Homo sapiens: one gene and its partners. The protein of the gene in region 2 purifies or fractionates together with the protein of the main gene of each other region. This does not show direct contact. Each region holds a gene or a part of one and is shown on either strand. Other genes may lie near its edges.

Region 1 (3,288 bases), on a different chromosome or scaffold from region 2:
AATTATAAAATCACATTCTTGGAAAGCTTCCTGATCATTAGCCCAGATAAGAAAGCTCCAGCAGCACTGTTTTAAATGTTTAATATACAATGTTTAGTAAGCCCCATTGATTGCAGGAAGAGTTTTAAAAAGATGTGAAAGACATTCACATTGACAACATACGTATCGAGTGAACAATGTGTACTAAAATGAACAGATGAGAGGTATACATTGGGGTGTGAGTTGATAATCTAGCAGGTTGTGGGGCTAGAGAGCTTTTGGAAAAGACAATGGAAGAACATACAAACAAATTAAAAAATACCATTTTTCAAAGACTAAAACCTGTTTGGAAAGAGAGGTAGAGAAAGCAAACACATAGGATCACACTGAGTTTATATTTTCCCCTAGATTTCAGACTTTAAGTGCTCTGACCTCTATTCTGGAAAACTTCTAATTATTTACATAAGATACTGTGAGTCTATGCATCTTGTTCTCTATATGATGTTCACAGGGAAACATACAGGCATGGTTCAATACATAGATTTAAAATGAATGCTTGTAACTTTGGTTCCCTTTTCTCCATTTTCTTAATGTGGTGAATAAGAGTACAGTTTTACAAATGAAAAGCCTGTAGTACACTCCCTTGATGGTAGCAGTGGCAAATGTACTGGAGAGACTGGATCTCACTCTGGTATCTATCTTGGGACACAAGTGCCTCTTTGAGGGTTGTAGAAGACAACCCTCAAAGAGGAAAGGAATATAGGTAAAATCTGGGTTTCTGCAAGAGAAAGAGGTGGAGCAGAAAATTTCAGGCTTGAACAGGATCAACAGATGGCACAATGTGGTCAGTGCCTCCAAACCCAGAGGTAAATAAGATGCTCTTCTGTTTACAGTTCCAGGGAGGAGAGTTGACCTGGCTGTGGTCATACAGCTTAGCAAAAAAATCTGGGGCCAGAACTCAGGCCTTTGTTAGGTCTCTCCTTCCTTCTAGCACATTGGCAAATTGTACAAGGAAAGTAGAGGTGGAGATGGGTTCATGTACAAACAATATGGCATTCAGCTAAAGTGGATCAGGGCAGGAAGTTTTATGATTTAGGGAATGTGTAAGACAGGAAGCATTCATTGCCCCCAATCAAGAAAGAGAGCCCTTGACCACCAGTTAGAGAATCCCCCAAGTCCCTCTTTGCTGTCACTGAAACTGAGATCTAAGGCAGGGCCTCAGTGAGTCAGGGCACTTAATCCAGTGGAAAGATCCCAGAACAGGATATTTCCCAGTTTGAGAATCCCTGTCATGCCAGTTATGGATAGATTTGCATTTTAGTTGGGACATTGCTGGGCCAGCCCAGTTTTGGGTAGTTCCACTTCCTGCTGGGTGGGGTAGCAGGCCCTATAAAGAGGTTCTCTGCTCTACAACTCCTAAACTCCTGGTACTTGAGCACTGATCTGCTTTGGAGAACCTGGTGAGTCTGCTTCCTTGAGTTCCTCTGTTCTTTGTGCCCTGAAGTGTTGAATTTAACCTGAATCCAGCAAGTTTGGTGGATCCAAACCTGTGATCATAGGTTTGATGGTACTTAGTTGATGGAACTACAGGATTAGATTACATGATACAGTGTTTTACACAGATTTTTAAAAAATGTACAATTATATGTCCATATGGACAGAGAAGTTAATAGGAAAGTTTTGGTTTGAAGAAAGGGATGAAGTATTTTTCTCTTTTCCATATTTTCCTGGTATCCTTTTCAAAGGTTTGTGTCTTAGCAGGTGTGAGAGCCAGTACTTCTTCCTGAACAGCCCTTGCTCTGTGCCCAAGTCAACCCACTGGTGCTTTACAACAGATAATGATGATAGGAATAGCTTGTGAGATTGCCCAGGAGGTCTGAACTTGTGACTGCCTTTCCTGAAGATGTCATTTTCATGGAATAACATGCTTGCTTCTTTATTATAGAGATGTTTTCTTTGGAAAAATTGTATGAGGAAAGGCAGGAATTCCTAGGGCTGATGAAACAACTTGCTAAAGTGGAAAGGAGAAGACAGGAAGTCATGAAAAGAGAGCTAAGAGTTTAAATAAATTTTTGGAGATTGGAGAAATAATATGCCATGGTATTACATAAGCTTTGGCTTCTCTCTCTGGAGGAGTCCATTCCTGTGAACACTGTCATATCATTTCTTTCAGATTCTGAGACTCCAGCAGGATGTCTTATCAACAGCAGCAGTGCAAGCAGCCCTGCCAGCCACCTCCTGTGTGCCCCACGCCAAAGTGCCCAGAGCCATGTCCACCCCCGAAGTGCCCTGAGCCCTGCCCACCACCAAAGTGTCCACAGCCCTGCCCACCTCAGCAGTGCCAGCAAAAATGTCCTCCTGTGACACCTTCCCCACCCTGCCAGCCAAAGTGTCCACCCAAGAGCAAGTAACAGCTTCAGAATTCATCAGGAGCATGAAAGGATAAGGATAATTGGCTCACCTTGTTCCACAGCTTCACCTGCATCTTCTCATCAAAGCCTACCATGGATACACAGTTAGCTTCTTTCCTCTTAGCCAGTGATCTGCCCATGATGATCCCTGATAGCAAAAGGTTTCCTTTCTGAGGCTGCCATATTGCCACTGTCCAGGTGGAGACTGAGAAAGGAAGTCCTCAGCAGTGTCAGTTCCCAGAGCTTTGGAAGAAGGACCAGCAGCTCTGTCCCTGGGAACCATCAAAAAATGCTGTTGATGTTTTCTGTGTCTGTCTGTCACCTGGGCATGGGCTTCTAACACCTGTGCAATTGTCACTTTTCTTTCACTCCCTGAATAAAATATCTTTGCATACGTATTTGTGAATGGATCTTTTGTTTCTTTTCAAATCTGCTTTATTAGTAAAATTATATAATCATTTGGGTTTATTTCCACCTTTCTTTCAACCACAGTCAGAATCTTAAAATTTGGGTCATATCAAAGATTATGTCTGTATTATTTAAACCACTTTTATTTTCCTTAATTAGTGTTTGATTGATTTGAGGAACATATTATTCAACTTCTGTGAATGTCAATCTCTTTATTGCAAAGCGACCAAAATAACATTTACTTAACAAACTAGTCTTGGGATAAATCTAATTACTATCTGAAATTTTGTTGTCGCAATGCCTGACACATAATTAGCTGTCATTTTAGAAGTTTATTGGCAGTAACATATCATCATTGTTTCCACCATTACCACCACCACCACCATCATCATCATCATCATCATCACTCCCCATGACAACCACTACCATATTTGTTCCAGCAATAGAGTGGCTTGGATGTAACTAATATAAAAAATAAGAAGACTCTGTT
Region 2 (3,500 bases):
TTGCTGATGAATAGTATGGTCCTGGGAAATGATCAGATGAACTAATGTCTCCATATTATCTCGATCATGAGAAACTGTGTCCTGCTTAATTTTAGCCAGTTTCCGGAAAGTTTTCCTGACTATTCTTTTTTGTTTATCTGGTGGTAAAGTCTTCATGTAGTTTGCTGGGCTGAGCTCCCACAATTTTTCTGTGTTTTGCACTAATTTGGCTTCAGCTGTCCGCCACAAAGGAACTGGAAGAAAAGCATCTGCTTTAACCAAAACAAATTGCATATTGGGCTGCTCATCTCCCCACGCTTTCCAAAGCTTCAGGATTCTAGTTAGTGGAGGAAGAACCCTTTCGGAGCCTCTCCACTTCTCTATGATGCAGTAATCACTGGGCTTCCCCAGAAGAAATCGTTTCTCTCCAAACGTAGCCTCATGTTCCTCAAGCAAAGCCTGGATGACATCAGCAGAGGTGGTGCGTTTAGTCAGCCCACAGACAAGCTTCTCTTCTTGGCAAACCCAAACCACAATTTCCTTCTCTTCTGAATCCATGTCTTTAGTTGGAGATCTGAAAGAAAAACAAAAGCACATTATATTTCTGTCATTGCCTGTGTAAACTCAGAAAGATGGTTTAACATTAGTATGCTTTCTAGATTTTTACCCTTAATGAGAGAGGCATTTTTTTTCTGTCGCCCAGGCTGGAGTGCAGTGGTGCGGTCTCAGCTCACTGCAAGCTCCGCTTCTCGGGTTCACGCCATTCTCCTGCCTCAGCCTCCCCAGTAGCTGGGACTACAGGCACCTGCCACCAGGCCCGGCTAATTTTTTTTTTGTATTTTTAGTACAGACGGGGTTTCACCATGTTAGCCAGGATGGTCTCGATCTCCTGACCTTGTGATCCACCCGTCTCGGCCTCCCAAAGTGCTGGGATTACAGGCGTGAGCCACTGCGCCTGGCCGAGAGAAGCATTTTTAAGTTGAGAATAAGAGTCAGAAGATTGGCCGGGTGTGGTGGCTCACGCCTGTAATCCCAGCACTTTCGCAGGCCGAGGCGGGTGGATCACCTGAGGTCAGGAGCTTGAGACCAGCCTGGCCAACATGGATAAACCCCGTCTCTACTAAAAATACAAAAATTAGCCAGATGTGGTGATGGACACCTGTAATTCCAGCTACTCAGGAGGCTGAGGCAGGAGAATTGCTTTAATCCAGGAGGCGGTGGTTGCAGGGAGTGGAGATTGTGCCACTGCACTCCAGCCTGGGCAACAGCGTGAGACTCCATCTCAAAAAAAAAAAAAAAAAAAAAAAAAAAAAGTCAGAAGATATAATGCAAGAAAAATATAAAAACCATGGAAAGAATCTTAATTATCTTTTTATTTCCTAGTGTGCTCTGGGAAGAGCAAACTTTCATTCAAGAAAACTGAGGCTATTTTAATTAAAGCATAGGTAGCGATAGTGAAATCATAGAGTTAAAAATAGTACAAAATGGAAAAATCGTCATTCTTTTTCATTAACAATTGTTTATTTCATGCCAACTATATGCCAGACACACCTGAAGATACTAAGGATATAGTAATAAACAAAGAAGACAAGAATGCTGACATGAATATGTAACTAATGTAATATCAAATCACAGTAAATGCTATGAAGAAAATTAAATGGGGCAAAGGAATAGAAAACGACCTGGAAGAAGGGCGGACTATTTTACTTAAAGTGCTTAGGACAGTCTTCCCCAAGGAGGTGACATTTGAATAGGGATATCCATTATCAAAAAGAGGCAATCAGAGTTCTCAGGAAAGAATTCCAGGAACAATGAGCAGAAGTATAAGGATCTAGGGACAGCAATACTGTGAATGTAGTTGAAAGCTGAGGATAGCAGAGTTGGAAATTGCTGCTGGTGGGAAGGAGAGATTAAATAATAGGCAACAGAGGGGATGGAGAAAAGCAACATCTCCTTTCTCCATCCCCTACTTTAGAGAAGGGGGAAGCCAAAGAAAGTGTTAGCTAACACCTTCCTAAGCTAAAGCAACTGGAAAGTTTTAAGTAGAGGTAAAACTAATTTATGCTTTACATATGTCTGTCTTCTGTTTGTGAAATGGACTGGAAAATAGAAAAAAATAGAAGCAAGAAGCCTATTCCATCAGTCTAGAAAATAGATGATGATTTCCTGGACTAGAGTTTTAACAGTACAGATATCATAAAGGAATCAGAGTTGGGATATAGATGATTAGACAGATAGATCCCCCCTACCCAGCACGGAGAGGCACACACATGTATTTATGTAAATATACATGTATATATGGGCTTGATAGTACTTTTCTCTGTTCTATAGAAGGTCAAGGGGAAAAAAACACTTCAGTTCTCTGGAGAAAAAATGACACAGGTAGTAAAAGAAGCAAAAATTCCATGATGTCTAGATCATACCTATTGGAACATTTTTAAGATCATACTTTCCATCATGACTATGCATCAAGTTGACTGTGTCTTTCATAATGCCTCTTTAAAAGAATGCTAAGAAACAAATGACATGAAATTAGTTATGCTACAATGTGATTTATGATGGTATAACAGTTTTGAGTAGTAATTGGCTTCTTGTGAAAGTTAAGTCAAATCATTTATCACTTTATTTATATAGTGCACTCAAAGGATATGACTCCAGGGACCACTTACCAAAGAAAATTTCCCTGCCTTCTATAATAATTTAACATTTAGAATTTATAGTGTTTATGTTTTGGCAGCAATAGTGATTAATTCTATGTTGCTATCTTTATTTTAAATTAACTAACTCTTATACTTTGGTTATTGACTCACATGAAGTAAAAAAGTTATTACTAAAGGTGAAAGATACATCAGGGATGCCAAGTAACACTAAAGATTAGGTCCAACTCCTAACAAAAAATTTCCAGGAAAATATAAGTATTCACATGGAGGAAGTAAAATGTTATAGTTTATTACTCAAAAAATCACACCAAGTTGTGTTAATTCTCTTATAAAATATTTTGCACTTAATGACTCAATACTGAGTATTATATTTTGAAGTAAGTATGATATTTGACAATGTTTATAATTCATCATTTAATAATTGCAAGTAGCAAAAGAGTAGGTTAGAAATTAGAATACCAAACTTACTTTCATATTTTGATTAGTAGAGATATAAGACACAAATACTGTCTAAACAAAAACAAGTAAGTTCTTTAAGTAAGTGATACTAACTTACTGTGTTATGGCTATATAGCACAAGTCAGCTCTAAATAAATCCTTACCTTAATATGTTTTAATTATGTGCATGCAATATCCAAAATTAGTATAACATTTTTTGTACCACATAGAGTTAATTTACTTCAACTAGGATATTTGAAAAGCAATAAACAATATTCTATGTACTTATTGCATGTTAAATTACAAAATTTTATTTTAAAATAAATAATGGTAAAAATAAAATTAAATAGTGGTCATAATTATCAACCTTATAATGCTAATAGTTATTATGTTAAAACTAAGGACAAATTTGTTTTATGTTAT
Region 3 (3,500 bases), on a different chromosome or scaffold from region 2:
TCAGGGGCCAGCGTGGGGGCTGTGCAGGGGTCGCTCCTCCATGAGGCCAGGAGGCCGGGTGATAAACTGAGGTTCAGGGGCCATGATCAGGGCTGGTCGGCGGGCAGGCCCCCAGGAGTGGGATGAACTGAGGTGCAGGGGCCGTGATCGGGGCTGGTCGGCGGGCAGGCCCCCAGGAGTGGGATGAACTGAGGTGCAGGGGCCGTGATTGGGGCTGGTCGGCGGGCAGGCCCCCAGGAATGGGATGAACTGAGGTGCAGGGGCCGTGATCGGGGCTGGTCGGCGGGCAGGCCCCCAGGAGTGGGGGTTGAGGGGTCAAGGTATCTCGTGGGAGGGGCCGATGAAGCCTGGAGAAGTGGCTGCTGTGGAGGGGCCAGGGCCAGAGGCCCTTGCTGGGGCCTGGAGAGCCCATGTCTGGCACTTGGACCCCCGGGGAGAGTGAGGGGGTTATCCAGAGAGGGCCGTCTCCGGGCTCAGACACTGCCTGGCACACAGGCCCTTCCAGACCCAGGCAAGTCTCCTTTAAGGCTACCTGTGGGTCATGGGCACATTGAGGGCATGCTGGAGAGTCCCTGGGTAAAGCAGGTGACTCTCTGGGGTGGACACCCCCTCCCTGCCCACTGCTGCCCATACCCTCCATCCACTGGCTGTCAGGGCAGGTGCCCAGTGGAGGGTGGGAGGTGGTTTATACCCATCAGCCTCCTAAGGGAGGACACTCAGACTTGTGCCGTCATCACAGTAGAACATTTTCATCACCCCAGAAAGACACCCTGTACCCATCGGCCGTCACTCCCGTCCCCCTTCCTCCCAGCCACCAGCAACCACCGACTGGTTGGTGCTTTCTGTTTCCACGGATTTGCCAATTCTGGATATTTCGTATAAATGGAATCACATGACGTGTGGCCTTTTGTGTCAGGCTTCTTTCACTCCAAATCTTGTTCTCAGGGTCCAGCCACAGGTACCCTGTATTGGTCTTCATTGCTTTTCATGGCTGAATACTATTCCATTGTGTGGGTGGAACACATGATTCCTTCATTTGTTGCTGTACATTTGGATCGTTTCCATGTTTGGGCTCACATGAATGGTGTTGCTCTGAGCGTTTGGCGACAGGTATTTTGTGGATGTCTATTTTCAGTTCTCTCTGGTGCACACTGGTATCCTCACTTTGGGCACCAGCTCAGGAGTCCCACAGACTTGGGTTTGGCGCCCAGCCCCATTGTTTACAAGCTGTTTGGTCTTGGGCAAGCCATTCTCTTAGCCTCACTCTCCTTGTCTGTAAAGTGGGCATGTAGGCCAGGCTCAGTGGCTCACGCCTATAATCCCATCACTTTGGGAGGCCAAGACAGGAGGATTGCTTGAGTCCAGGAGTTCAAGACCAGCCTGGGCAACATGATGAAACCCCATCTCTACCAAAAAAAAAAAAAAAAAGCTGGGCATGGTGGTGTGCATCTGTAGTTCCAACTACGCTGGAAGCTGGGGTGGGAGGATTGCTTGAGCCTGGGAGGTCAAGGCTGCAGTGAGCTGAGATGGTGCCACTGTACTTCAGCCTGGGCGACAGAGTGAGATCCTCTCACTCAAAAAAAAAAAAAAAAAAAAAAAAAAAAAAAAGGCATGTATGAACATGTAAAAAGATAGTGCCTGCTGGGAGCAGTGTGGCAAGGACTCAGTGGGCCCATCTGCCCTAAGTGGGTACCTAGTCAGTGGGAGGTGTGTGTGGCCCGAGGGGGCTGAGTTCTAGTACAGGTGGGGGCCCCTGCACCCCGGGAATGCCCTGGAGGTAACACTAGGGCTTTGTCTAGTCCTGGTGTCACTTTCAGGATCCCGGGCCATGCCCTCGCTGGCACCCACCACTGCCCAGTGAGGCGGGCAGGAGAGGGGCGGCTTGCACAGCCCACCCCCACGCTCCTGGCTTCCCTCCTGCCTGTGCTGCAGAAATCCCAGCCCCCTAGAGCCGGGGGCTGTAACAGGACAGGCAGCCCAGGGGCCTGGTGCAGATGAGGCCAGAGGTGCCAGGGGCCGGCTGGCACATGGCCTGTGTTCTGCAGCGGAAGGTGCAGGAAGGTGTAGGTGCCCAGGTCTCCCAGGGCCGTATGTGTGCGACTGGCGCCCCCTGCTGTCTGGCGCGGGGAGTGCCGCCTTGCGTTGCCCCAGGGGGAATCCCCAGCGTCCCTGTTGGGTTCCCTACACTACAGAGACCCAACAGCCTGGGCTGGAGTTAGGGGTCTGCACACACCCTGGGGCAGAGGACCCTTTCTATTGTCCAGACGAGGAAACCGAGGCTCAGCGTGGGTTGAGCCCCACCTCAATGACGCTTTCCTAGACCCCAGGGCTCGGGGGGCCTCCGGAGGTAGCAGCTCCCAGGCCCCCTAGCCTCAGGGGTGGGGCCTGGTCTCCATGTGGAGGCGGGAGCCGGTCAACCTGCAAGGCCCTGGGAGCAGGTCCAGGCCAGGGCGGGCGGGGAGGGCACCAGGGGTTGGCTGCCAGGCCTGCAGGGGGTTCCAGGTCCTGAGGGTCGCAGAACCCAGCCCTGCAGTGTTAGGTGGCCCCATGATGCAGGCCTGGGTGGGTGGGATTCCAGCCCAGCTCCCTGAGCTTGCCAGGCCGTTGGGAGGCGTCATCAGGGCCCCATTTACAGAGAGGGCGGCAGACTCAGCTTCCATGGTTGGCCCAAGGATTGCCAGAGGTGGGAGCCCCGAAGATGTCCTGGAAACCCCGCTTCCAGGGCCCACAGGGCACCGCTGGGTGTTTTCTGTCTGGCTCTGGGCACTTGTAAGTTCCTCCCAAGCCTCTCCCAGCATCTTGTGACCTGCTGGTTTCTGTTGGGCCCCTGTGGTCCCCACTGCAGCCCGAGGCAGAAGCCCTGCACCTGGCTTCCCAGCCACATGGACCCTTCCAGGCAGGAAGCTGGGGGTGGGACTGCCTGCCCCTGGGTAGACACGCAGCTTCTGACAGAGGCTGGGTCCCCTCCCCAAGGCCTGATGTGGGAGCTGGGCACCTGGCAGCCAATTCATCCCGCAGGGCTGGGAGGTGGCAGCTGGGAGGCAGGCCCCAGGGAGTGCTCAGGGCGAAGCCGGCCTCGCCCACCGGTGGCTCCAGGGTGGGCAGGGGAAGGGAGTTTGGAGTCAGGTGCCAGGGTTAAGTCCAGACCTTCCTGGTCTTGCTGTGATCTGGGTCTCTTGCCCTCCCTAGGCTGAACTTACTTTCCTTGCAAAACAGACGCTAGGTCTTATCTGTGGGGTGTTGTAGAGGAGCCTGAGAGGTGTGGGTGGGCCCTGGACTGCCCCTCTTGCCTCTGTGCTATCAGGGACCATTTCATCTGCAGAAGACCTGGTGGGCGGGACTGGCCAGACTGGCTGTGGGCTCCTTGGGTCTCCATCCTCACACCTGCCTCCTCTGCCTCACCCCGGTCCCCTTTTCCTCCTGCCTGGGCCCTGGCCCCTCAGAATGGGGGCCTTGTCTGAGCCACCGGTCATTCCTGTGGGAGCCAGCCAGGGTGAGCT
Region 4 (3,500 bases), about 77 Mb from region 2:
CTTTGGTTTCTTGTGCTCCTTGGGTATTACTCAAGAAATCTTTGCCCAGACCAATGTTCTGGAGAGTTTCCCCAAAGTTTTCTTATATATAATAGTTTCATAGATTGAGGTATTAGATTTAAATCTTTCATCCATTTTGACTTGATTTTTCTATATGGAGAGAGATGAGGGTCTAGTTTCATTCTTCTGCATATGGATATCCAATTTTCCCAGAACCATTTATTGAAGAGCCTGTGCTTTCTCCAGTGTATACACTTGTCACCTTTGTCAAAAATGAGTTCACCCTAGACATGTTTCTGGGTTCTCTATTCTGTTCCATTGGTCTATGTATTTGTTTTTATGACAGTACCATGCTGTTTTGGTTACTATAGCTTTGCAGTATAATTTGAAGTCATGTAATGTGATTCTTCCAGCTTTGTTCTTTTTGTTCAGAATAGATTTGGTTATTTTAGGTCTTTTATGGTTCCATAAAAATTTTATGATTTTTTTTACAAAAGTCCTAAGATTTAGGATGTAGAATTTCTGTGAAGAATGTCATTAGTATTCTGATAGGGATTGCAATGAACCTGTAGATTGCCTTAGGTAGTACGGAATTTTAACAATATCAATTCTTCCAATCCAGAAACATGAAATCTCTTTTCATGTTTTTGTGTGTCCTCTTCAATTTCTTTCATCAGTATTTTATAGTTTTTATTGTTGAGATCTTTCACTTCTTTGGTAAAGTTTATTCCTAGGTATTTTATATTATTTATAGCTATTGTAAATGGAATTATCTTTCTTAATTTCTTTTTCAGATTGTTCCCTGTTGGCATATAGAAATGTTACTGAATTTTTTTTGTTTTTGAGACAGAGTCTCCCTCTGTTGCCCAGGCTGTGGAGTGCAGTGGCGGGATCACTGCTTACTGCAACCTCTGCCTCCTGGGTTCAAGTGATTCTTGTGCTTCAGCATCCCAAGTAGCTGGGAGTACAGGCATGCGCCACCATGCCCAGCTAATTTTTGTTTTTGTTTTTTTGTTTTTTGAGATGGAGTCTCATTCTGCCGCGCAGGCTGGAATGCAATAAATGGTTGCTCATTGCAGCCTCTGCCTCCTGGGTTCAAGTGATTCTCCTGCCTCAGCCTCCCGAGTAGCTGGGTTTACAGGTGAGCGCCACCACCCCTGGCTAATTTTTGTATTTTTGGTAGAGATGGAGTTTCGCCATGTTGGCCAGGCTGGTCTCCAACTCCTGACCTCAAGTTATCCTCCCCACTCAGCCTCCCAAAGTGCTGGGGTTACACGCGTAAGCCACCACGTCTGTCTTCTTGCACTTTTAGGATTCTTTTTTGTTTTTTATTCCTTGATGTTTGGGAGTTTGATTATTAAATGTCTTGAGGTAGACTCATTTGGGCTAAATCTGCTTGGTGTTCTATAATCTTGTAATTAATATTGATATCTTTCTCAGCTGGGCTCAGTGGCTCATGCTTGTAATCCCAGCACTTTGGGAGGCTGAGGTGGGCAAATCACCTGAGATGAGTATTTCGAGACCAGCCTGGCCAACATGGCAAAACCCTGTCTCTACTAAAAATACCAAATTAGCCAAGCAAGGTGGCCTGTGCCTGTAATCCCAGCTACTGGGGAGGCTGAGGCAGGAGAATCACTTGAACCAGGGAGGCGGAGGTCACATGAGCCAAGATCACATTACTGCACTCCAGCCTGGGCAACAGAGCGAGACTGTCTCAAATAATAATAATATTGATATCTTTCTCTAGGTTTGGAAAGTTCTCTGTTATTTTCACTTTGAATAAACTTTCCATCTCATTTTCTCTCTCAACCTCCTCTTTAAAGTCAATACCTCTTTTTTTTTCTCTTTGTTAAATTTATCTGATAAGATTCTGAATTCTTTCTCTGTGTTATCTAAAATTTTGTTGAGTTTCCTCAAAACAGCTATTTTGAATTCTCGATCTGAAAGATCACTATCTTTGTTTCTGGGAGATTGGTTGCTGGTGCCTTATTTAGTTCATCTGGTGAGGTAATTTTTTCCAACATGGTCTTGATGTGGATGTTCATTGGTGTCTGGGCATTGAAGAGTTAGGTATTTATTGTAGTCTTGGCATTCTGGACTTGTTTGTACCTGTCCTCCTTGGGCAGACTTTCCAGGTATTTGAAGGGACTTGGGTGTCGTAATCTAAGTGTTTGGACTCTGCAGTTCATCTGCATTAGGGAGGACCCCATGCTCAGTATCTCTGTGGCTCTTGAAGGCTCATAGAGGTACCTCCTTGATGGTCTTGGATAAGATCTGGAAGAATTCCAGATTACCAGGAGGAGACTCCTGTTCTCTTCCCTTACTTTCTCCAAAACAAACAGAGTTTCTCTCTTTGTGCTGAGCTGCCTGGAGAGAGGGGTGACACAAGCACCCCTGTGGCCACCAGCATTGGGACTGCACTGGGTCAGATCTGAAGCCAGCACCGTACTGTGTCTCACCCAAGGCCTGTGGTAACCAGTACCTGGCTACTGCCCATGTTTGCTCAAGGCCCTAGGGCTCTACAGTCAGCAGGTGACAAAGCCAGCCAGGCTTGTGTCCTCCCCTTCAGGGTGGTGAGTTCCCCATGACCCTGGAAGGTCCAGAGATGTAATCTGCGAGCCAGGGCCTGGAGTCAGAAACCTTAGGAATCTACCTGGTGTTCTGTTCTACTGCAGCTGAGTTGGCACCCAAGCCATAAGACAAAGTCCTTCCCACTCTTCCTTCCCCTTTTCACAGAGGAGTCTCTCTCTGTGGCCACCACTACTCCAGGCCCACAGGAGTACTGCCTGGATACTTCCAGTATTCTCTCGAGGCCCAAAGTCTCCTTTCACCAGCTTGTGGTGAATGGTGCCTGGCCTGGGACTCTCTTTTCAGGGCAGTGAGCTCTCCTCTGACAAACAGCAGGTCCAGAAATGGCATCCAAGAGCCACAGCCCATAACTGGCGACCCCAAGGGCCTGCTTGGTGCTGTACCCCACTGTGGCTGAGCTGGTACCTAAGCTGCAAGACAAAGTCCCCTTGACTCTTCCCTCTCCTTTTCTCAAGTAGAAGGAGTCTCTCCCCATAGTCACCACAGCTGGGAATGTGCTGAATCACTGGAAGCCAGCATGTCTCTGAGTCTCACCCAAGGCCCACGACAAGTACTGCCCAGCTATCACTGCTGAGTATTTAGAGCCCCAGGGGCTAATCGGAACTCAGCTTCCAACCGCTGGGATGGGCAGTTCACCCCTGGCTAACGCTGGTCTAAATGCTCCCTCCATGGGCACTGGCTGAGTTCTGCCCTGTGTGCTTTCCCCTGTGATTGGGCAGCATTGCATTCTAAAGCCAAGTCCCACAGTCACTGTGCTCTCCCGCCCTCAAGCTCATCGATTCTGTCTCTGTACCACAGTCACTGCTGGGGGATGGCGGGGAGGGGGTGAATCAGCAATTCAAGTGTGTCTTTTCTACCCTCTTCAGTGCCTCTTTCAGTGATATAAAGTTAAAACCAGGCACTGTGATCAC

Evidence for each region. Proteins that work in one complex are often made in the same cells at the same time.
Region 1: the proteins of RASSF9 (region 2) and SPRR2E purify together in Homo sapiens (affinity purification with mass spectrometry; one large-scale study listed by BioGRID and IntAct). This does not show direct contact.
Region 3: the proteins of RASSF9 (region 2) and CCDC85C purify together in Homo sapiens (affinity purification with mass spectrometry; one large-scale study listed by BioGRID and IntAct). This does not show direct contact.
Region 4: the proteins of RASSF9 (region 2) and A2ML1 purify together in Homo sapiens (affinity purification with mass spectrometry; one large-scale study listed by BioGRID and IntAct). This does not show direct contact.

The regions. Positions count from the first base shown.
Region 1 is NC_000001.11:153,092,635-153,095,922, reverse strand, and holds SPRR2E (small proline-rich protein 2E), read left to right. Parts: upstream 1-1,396; 5' UTR 1,397-1,439; intron 1,440-2,152; 5' UTR 2,153-2,171; coding exon 2,172-2,390; 3' UTR 2,391-2,788; downstream 2,789-3,288. UniProt on the Homo sapiens protein: Cross-linked envelope protein of keratinocytes. It is a keratinocyte protein that first appears in the cell cytosol, but ultimately becomes cross-linked to membrane proteins by transglutaminase.
Region 2 is NC_000012.12:85,805,410-85,808,909, forward strand, and holds part of RASSF9 (ras association domain-containing protein 9), read right to left. Parts: intron 554-3,500; coding exon 1-553. UniProt on the Homo sapiens protein: May play a role in regulating vesicuar trafficking in cells.
Region 3 is NC_000014.9:99,517,208-99,520,707, reverse strand, and holds part of CCDC85C (coiled-coil domain-containing protein 85C), read left to right. Parts: intron 1-3,500. UniProt on the Homo sapiens protein: May play a role in cell-cell adhesion and epithelium development through its interaction with proteins of the beta-catenin family. May play an important role in cortical development, especially in the maintenance of radial glia.
Region 4 is NC_000012.12:8,825,621-8,829,120, forward strand, and holds part of A2ML1 (alpha-2-macroglobulin-like protein 1 isoform 1 precursor), read left to right. Parts: intron 1-3,500. UniProt on the Homo sapiens protein: Is able to inhibit all four classes of proteinases by a unique 'trapping' mechanism. This protein has a peptide stretch, called the 'bait region' which contains specific cleavage sites for different proteinases.